2 linked regions of the Homo sapiens genome follow. The protein of the gene in region 1 purifies or fractionates together with the protein of each later gene. This does not show direct contact. Each region holds a gene or a part of one and is shown in the gene's direction. Other genes may lie near its edges.

Region 1 (3,655 bases):
ACGGCCACAAACTCTGGCGTGGAGTTTTTCTGCTTTTCTTTCTGTTTTTGACAATACTTTCACAAGTCACCACCTCGTGGTTTGTTAGACATCACCTGATCTGAAGTCTGACTTCTCTATTCATAATCTCGATTTCTCTTTTTCCTTCCTGGCGTACCCACTATGCCTTCCCCTTCCCTCTTTGTAGTTGCTAGGCAGCCATAATAGTACTCCTAGACATGTGTCTTTGGCATTAATGTTGGCCACACTTAATTTATGCCTCTTTTTTTCCTCCAAATGACAACAGCCATGCTTTAAAACTAGATGTTTTCCTTTCTGATTAACTGGTAACGTTTATGTGGAAATCTGAAGACTTTGTGATGTCTGTCAGAAACTCTGCAACCCAATTCAGTGATCTGAGTTTACTATCCCCTAGCTTTTAAGCTATCACCTGTAAATAAAATGTCTGTTTACACTTTGAAGAAAACACTTCTTGATTTCATGCAGTTAAGATTCACATTGCACTCCAGCATGTTGCAGTTAATGGCTACTGTATGAAATTTCAAGATCATGTAATGTTTCCAAACCAGCTGGCATTCTGAGCCGAGTTTATTATGGCCATACACAATTTCCTAGGAGCCATGATGACTACGGCCTTGCTTAAAGACACAAATGTCTTCATCTGACGTCCAATTTTAGAAATTCGTTACTTCATCTCACAGTCACCTTCATATTTAAAAAATTACATTACAGCCCTGAGATTTTATTTATAAATCCACTTTTACCTGATTGATTTCTAAAGTCACATTCTTAGATTTCTGTTTTTGGTGGAAAATTGTTAAGTGAAGGATTTTACTGCCATGCATTTATTTCATCAGTAATAAGCGGCATTTAATCCTGAGACATTTCTTATTTAAGTGAACTCTGGCATGGCTCAGTATATCCTGAGGAGATTAGTAAGAGAATCCAGTTTAAAATAACTGCTTGGCCAAAGGGAAAAAAGAAAGAAATGCAGCCACAGAATCAGGAAATTATAGTGTTGAAGGAATGACAGCTGTTTTGGGTAACTCTACAACTCATGGATTTTTTCTTTTAGGGATTCAGTGGTTGAGTTTTTTTGCCCCACCCAAAGGTTTTTCTTCTGTCCTTTTTGCTTATTTTTCTTCCTTTTCTTTTCTGATCCATTGCTAGACAGCTTATTTTTCTTGATGTTTAGATTGTTAGTTGATTTCACAGCCTTTCCCTCATCCACTAGATAAATGCAATCTAAAAATGTAATTAAACTCCAATCTTTAGGGCAGAGGAGAACTATTTTTCCCATTGAAATAATTTGATTATTTCTTTTTTCATTCTGTCTCTTCTCTGGAGAAAAATTATTGTTTTTACTTGTTGGCTTAGAACTTGCTCTAAATGCCAAATTTTAAAAAGGAAAACTTTCCAGGGAAGTTTAGCAGAAGTTATGCACCAAAAGGATGTGTATCCTGGCTCAGGAGTCAGTGGACTTGTGCTGTTCAACACAATTCTCAACTCTGCTGCCAACTTTTTGGATGACCTTGGCCACTTAATTTCTCTAGACCTCACTCCTAGTGCCTGTAAAACAGATAGGTTAAGCAGGTGATTTCTAAGGGCCTTTCCAATTCTAATATTCTATGGCTCTGTCCTCTGAAAGAATCACAGCGCCAGTCTTAGATTTCTCTCACCGTTCTCCAGTATGACAAGGTGTATTCCATGCAGAAAATGGTTGTAGAGATTCCAGTGTTTACACAGACAGTAGGTAGGGGACAAGTCCTGTGCTGCTTCTTCAGATTATCAGATTTTTATTTGGTTTGTACTGGTCCCAGATTATTATCAAATACAGAGAAGTTTTGGGATTTGGGGGAGGGTGAGGTGGAGTGGATTGTTGAGTAGCACAAATCCATATTTCCTTATAGCTTTGGGTTACTGGTGGTTCTAATGCCCATCTTGGTTTCATTTTAGGCTTTGGGCGTTGCCTTGTATATAAAAATGCTAAATGTACGTTGAAACGATACACCAATCAGACTTTTGATAAAGTGATGGGGCCCATGTTGGATGCTGCTACAAGGAAACCTATCTGGCGACATGAAATCTTAGATGCAGATGGTATTTGTTCTCCAGGTAAAAGCCTTTTAAAAGAAAAAATTTTAATACTTTTTGACATCATATGTTATTCAATAATATTTCTGAATATTTGGCAAAAAGGGCAGAAAAAAGTAACAACCTATAAAACCACCATCCAAACTCAACCAATGAGGTCATTTTTGATGAATTTCCTTCCAGTCTGTTTTTCTATACACTATGTTTTTACCTATCAGTAATCTATGCTAACTATAATTTTCTAGTTATAATTTTGAATAATAGAAAAGCCACTTTAAGGAAATATTTAGAGTAGTTTATGTCCCTGCATCTGCACTGGTATTTCTTCATTTACACATTTAGCTTACAGACTACTTTAGAATTTTATCCCCCTGCAAAGGTATGACTCCATTATAATTACAAACTTGTAATGCATTTTGTTGATGAAACAAATAGCCCTTGCCCTTATGGGTCTCACAGGCTAGTGCAGGAGACTGACATTGATCAGAGGATCATGCATAAATCCAGGTTAAGGAATCATATAGGTAACTATGAGGCCATTTTATAGCAAGAGAATTTGACCTTGTTGGGAAGATCAGCATGGCTTTCCCGAGGAAGTGAGCTGGAATCTGAAGGATAGGGAAGAGTTAACTAAAGAAGAGGATCAGGGAGCATGTTCTAAGTAATGAGAAAAGCTTGTGCAAGGGTCCCAGAGCTTGGTAGTTGAAAGGTCTGAAAGAAGACCAGCGTGGCTAACAAGAAGAGAGTGCAGGGAAGCATGGTGCACATGAGTTGGTGGGTGACGCAAGGGGTAGGGGCCAGAGTAAGCAAGTCCTTGCAACCATGTTAGTATTGTCTTTATTTTATTTTATTAATTTTATTTTTGAGACAGGGTCTCAGTCTGTCACTGAGGCTGGAGTGCAGTGGCACAATCTCAGCTCACTGCAACCTCTGCCTCCCAGACTCAAGTGATTCTCCCACTTCAACCTCCTGTATAGCTGGGACCCATAGGCACGTGCCACCATGCCTGGATAGTTTTTTGTATTTTTTGTAGAGATGAGGTCTTACCATCTTGTCCAGGCTTGTCTTGAACTCCTGGGCTCAAGTTCTCCACCCACCTCGGCTTCCCAAAGTGCTTGAGCCACCATGCCGAGCCCATGATACTATTTTCATTATGATCCTAAAAGCAATGATATATTCAGATATGTGTTTTGAATGATCATTCTGACTACAGTGTAGAAAAAGGATTAGAAGGGCACTAAAATAGAAGGTAGACCTGGTACCAGGAGCTGTGGTGAAGGTGGAGAGAACCCAGTTTGTGAGGAGGGAAATCCACATGACTTTGTCATGGTTGGCCTGTGGGCGGTGAATGCTTTATCAAGCTGTGGTTCCAAAGAGACACAGAGTACGCGACTTCTCCTCCCTCCCTCTGCCTTTGTTTCTTGGAGAATTTTTCTCACCCTAACACTGGTCAGTATGGCTTGGAAAATACGCGCTGTGACAGTACTACAGGTAGTTGGTCTTTGAACTTACCAGGAAGAGATACAAAGCAAAAATGGGAATAACAGCATAACCAAAGAAA
Region 2 (3,755 bases), on another chromosome or scaffold:
CCTGAAACGTAATGTCAACAAGTAAGCATCATAAACTTCAGACCTGCATTTCAGAATACCATCCAGAAAATCCATTTTGACCTCCTGTAACCCTCCAGCTTAGCATGAGCAAACCTAAACTCACTGTCTCCTCCAGCTCACTTAACAGAATTTAATCCACCTATTTTTGTAAACTAGCAATTCTGAAGATGTTCTGAGCTTCTTCTCCATCACCATATACACTCTCTTGTTCATCAAGTACTGATAAATTTTTTTTAAGAGACGGGGTTTTGGCTGTGTTGCCCAGACTGGCCTTGAACTCGTAGGTTCAAACAGTCTTCCTGCCTCAGCCTCCCAAGTAGCTGGGACTACAGGCAAGTGCCACTGCGCTGGCTTAATTTTACTTGAGTCATGTGTCTCAAATCTGGCCTTTCATCTTGGTCCACACGCAGGCCTTCATCACCTCTTTCCTAGACCTTCACATTTCAGTGCACAATTTGTGCACCTCTTTCATTAAATTTATTTCTTAAGTATTTTTTTGGATACTAGTTTAGTGGTCGCTTATTTCAGTTTTAGATTGTTCATTGCTAGTGTTATACAAAAACAACCAACTTTGGTGTTGTGATTTTGTATCCCACAACTTTACTAAATTCATTTATTAATTCTAGTAGTTTTTTTGCAGATTCTTTGAGATTTTTTATAATAGGATTATGTCATCCATGAATAGAGAGAGTTTTACTTCTGTCTTTTCAATCTAGATGCCTTTACTTTTTTTTTTTCCTGCCCCATTACCCTGGCTAGAACCTCCAGTAAAAGGTTGAATAGAAGTACAAAAGCAGACATCTTTGTTTTGTTTCTGATCTTAGGAGAAAAGCTTTTAGTCTTTCACCATTAAGTATGATGTTAGCTGTGGGTTTTTCCTAGATGGCTTTTGTCAGGCTGAAGAAGCTTCCATTTCTTCCTAATCACCACTCACTTTAAGCTTCAGACACTCTTAGTTTCTTGCTATTTTAAAACACACTAGGTCCTTTTATACCTGTGCCTTTACGTTCGTTTTCCTGATTGCAAATGAAGACTACCTTCCCCCAGGACAGAGGCTCTGTATTTTGTATTCTTAGCAGTTTGCATGGTGTCTGGCACATAAAGATGCTCGGTAAATAGCAAAATGATCTACTGGTTCTCCTGCTTTCTTTCCATCCACTCTCAAGGGTAACCAAGCAGTTATCCATGGCCACACCCACCCTAACCTCTAATCTTAAATATGCTAATGAACATTCAGTCTAGGCAAATGCCTTTACTTTTCACTCAGGTTGGATGCCAGTGAGATCCAGGTGGACGAAACCATCTTCCTGCTGGAGTCTTACATTGAGTGCACCATGAAGAGACAGTGATCCAGAAGAAGCATCTTCCTCAGAAGATCTGGGGGGATGGAAAGCAAAATAAAGGAGGTGCCTGGATGCATTATTTGCAGTGGGATAAGTCGCAGAGTCTTCAACTAAACCCCCCTCTCTATCCCCTGCAGCCCAGGATACACCTGAAAGAATTTGGCATATTTAGATCCATTGCTGTAGTCTCCCCTCATCAAATCTTGGCAGTGGGAAGAACCTTAAATCAACAAGGTTAATCATCTATCAGATGCATCTGTTCCCATAAAGAAGTTACCCACACCTATGGTTACCTATATCCCTGGCAATAGGAAACTTCCTAAGAAGTTAATTTTATTTTCAGATGTCTATGCCTGTTCTTTATTTTGTTGAGATAGGTGATAGATAGATAGATAGATAGATAATTTGTTGTTGTTGAGACAGGATCTCACTCTGTCACTCAGGCTGGGGTGTAATAGCGCAATCACAGCTCCCTACAGCCTTGACCTCCTGAGCTCAAGCAGTCCTTCCACCTCAGCCTCTGGAGTAGCTGGGACTACAGGCATGCACCACACATACCCAGCTATTTTTTATTTATTTATTTATTTTTTTGTAGAGACAGGGCCTCCCTGTGTTGCCCAGGCTGATGAACTGTAATTTTTAACACACACAGTGTAGGGAATGTGAAAGACTATCACAGAGTAGAAGAAAAAATTATTTTCAGGGTTAGCAGGTGGATTGTCCCAAGCAGTCACACTAGAATCTGTGGACTGAAGCCACATTTGCCAGCTCCAGGCTTCTAACACATCTGAAACTGTGTATGTAGAACAGCTAGCTCAATGCCTGGCATATGGTAAGCACACAGTAAATTAGCGCCTTCCTCTTCTCCATGGTTCCTTAAAACTGGCAACGCTAAATTCTCTCTCTCAGTATCACGGATATAATTTGTCCCAGCAGCTTTAATTCATTTAAAGCAGTTAGATGTTTTATAATATCTTCAGTTTTCTCTCACCAATGTGTTTTCTAATTGTTTAAACACTTGAGTGTCAAACAATTGCCAGCCACCATACTAAACACAACATACAAGGATAGATAAATAAGACACCATCTCTGCCCTCAAGCCAGTCACCATCATTTACTAAGCACCTGTTTTGTGCTAAGTACTGGGGTAAGCCTTGGGGATATAAAGATTAATAAATTTTGAGCATACAGTCTAGTAGGAGGAGACAAATAAGTACATAAGTACCAGGAAGTATTAGGGGTGCTACAGTAGAAGAGTAAACACTATGTACAGAGAGGCCAGAAAGGGAAAAGGGTCAGGCAGGGAAGGGAACACAGAGAGTGACAATGTATAGTTTGAAAGATGAGGATGCTTTATTTGCAAACTATCTTAACAAGGGATTCGTAACCAGAATATATAAGGAGCTCAAACAATAGCAAAAAGAACAATCCAACTTAAAAATGGCCAAAAGATCTTAATAGGTAGTTTTCGAAAGAAGATACACAAATGGCCGACAGATACATCAAAAAATGTTCAACATCACTAATCAGAGAAATGGAAATCAAAATCAATGAGATAACATCTCACCCCAATTCATTACTTTTATCAAGAAGAAAGAATGAATGCTAGTGAGGATGTGGAAAAAGGAGAGCCCTGCCTGGTACACTGTTGGGAATGTAAATTGGTACAGCCACTGTGGAAGACTACAGAGGTTCCTCAAAAAACTAAAAACAGAACTATGCTCCAGCAGTTCCACTACTGGGTATATATATATCTCCAAAAGGAAAGAAATCAATGTATCAAAAAGATACCTGCACTCCCATGTTTATTGCAGCAGTATTCACGATAGCCAAAACATGGAATCAACCTAAGTGCCCATCAATAGATGAAAGGCTAAAGAAAATGTATTATTCAGCCATAAGAATGAATGAAATCCTGTCATTGGCAGCAACATGGATGGAATTGGAGGTCATTATGTTAAGTAAAATAAACCAAGCACAGAAACAAATATTGCATGTTCTGTCTCACATAGGAGCTAAAAAAGTGGATCTCAAGAAAATAAAGAATAGATTGGTAGTTACCAGAGGCTAGGAAGGATGGGGAGGATGAAGAGAGGTTGATTAGTGGGCACAGATAATACAGTTTGAAGAAGTAAGACTGGTGTTGGATAGATCAGGGTGGCATAGTTATTAATTTACTGTACATTTCAAAACAGCTAGAAGATAATTTTGATGGTGCCTAAATCCTGTAATCCCAACACACTGGGAGGATCAGTTGAAGCCAGGAGTTCAAGAACAGCCTGGGCAACAGTGAGATTTCATCGTTACAAAAAAATTTAAAAATTAGCCAGGTGTGGGTAGTGCACATCTGTAATCACAGCTACTCAGGAGGCTGAGACGGGAGAAGCGCTT

Evidence for each region. Proteins that work in one complex are often made in the same cells at the same time.
Region 2: the proteins of POLR3B (region 1) and POLR3C fractionate together in Homo sapiens (co-fractionation; 4 studies listed by BioGRID and IntAct, with this or other methods). This does not show direct contact.

What each region holds. Positions count from the first base shown.
Region 1 is NC_000012.12:106,455,182-106,458,836, forward strand, and holds part of POLR3B (DNA-directed RNA polymerase III subunit RPC2), read left to right. Parts: intron 1-1,956; coding exon 1,957-2,115; intron 2,116-3,655. UniProt on the Homo sapiens protein: Catalytic core component of RNA polymerase III (Pol III), a DNA-dependent RNA polymerase which synthesizes small non-coding RNAs using the four ribonucleoside triphosphates as substrates.
Region 2 is NC_000001.11:145,841,051-145,844,805, forward strand, and holds the end of POLR3C (DNA-directed RNA polymerase III subunit RPC3), read left to right. Parts: coding exon 1-21; intron 22-1,288; coding exon 1,289-1,370; 3' UTR 1,371-3,352; downstream 3,353-3,755. UniProt on the Homo sapiens protein: DNA-dependent RNA polymerase catalyzes the transcription of DNA into RNA using the four ribonucleoside triphosphates as substrates.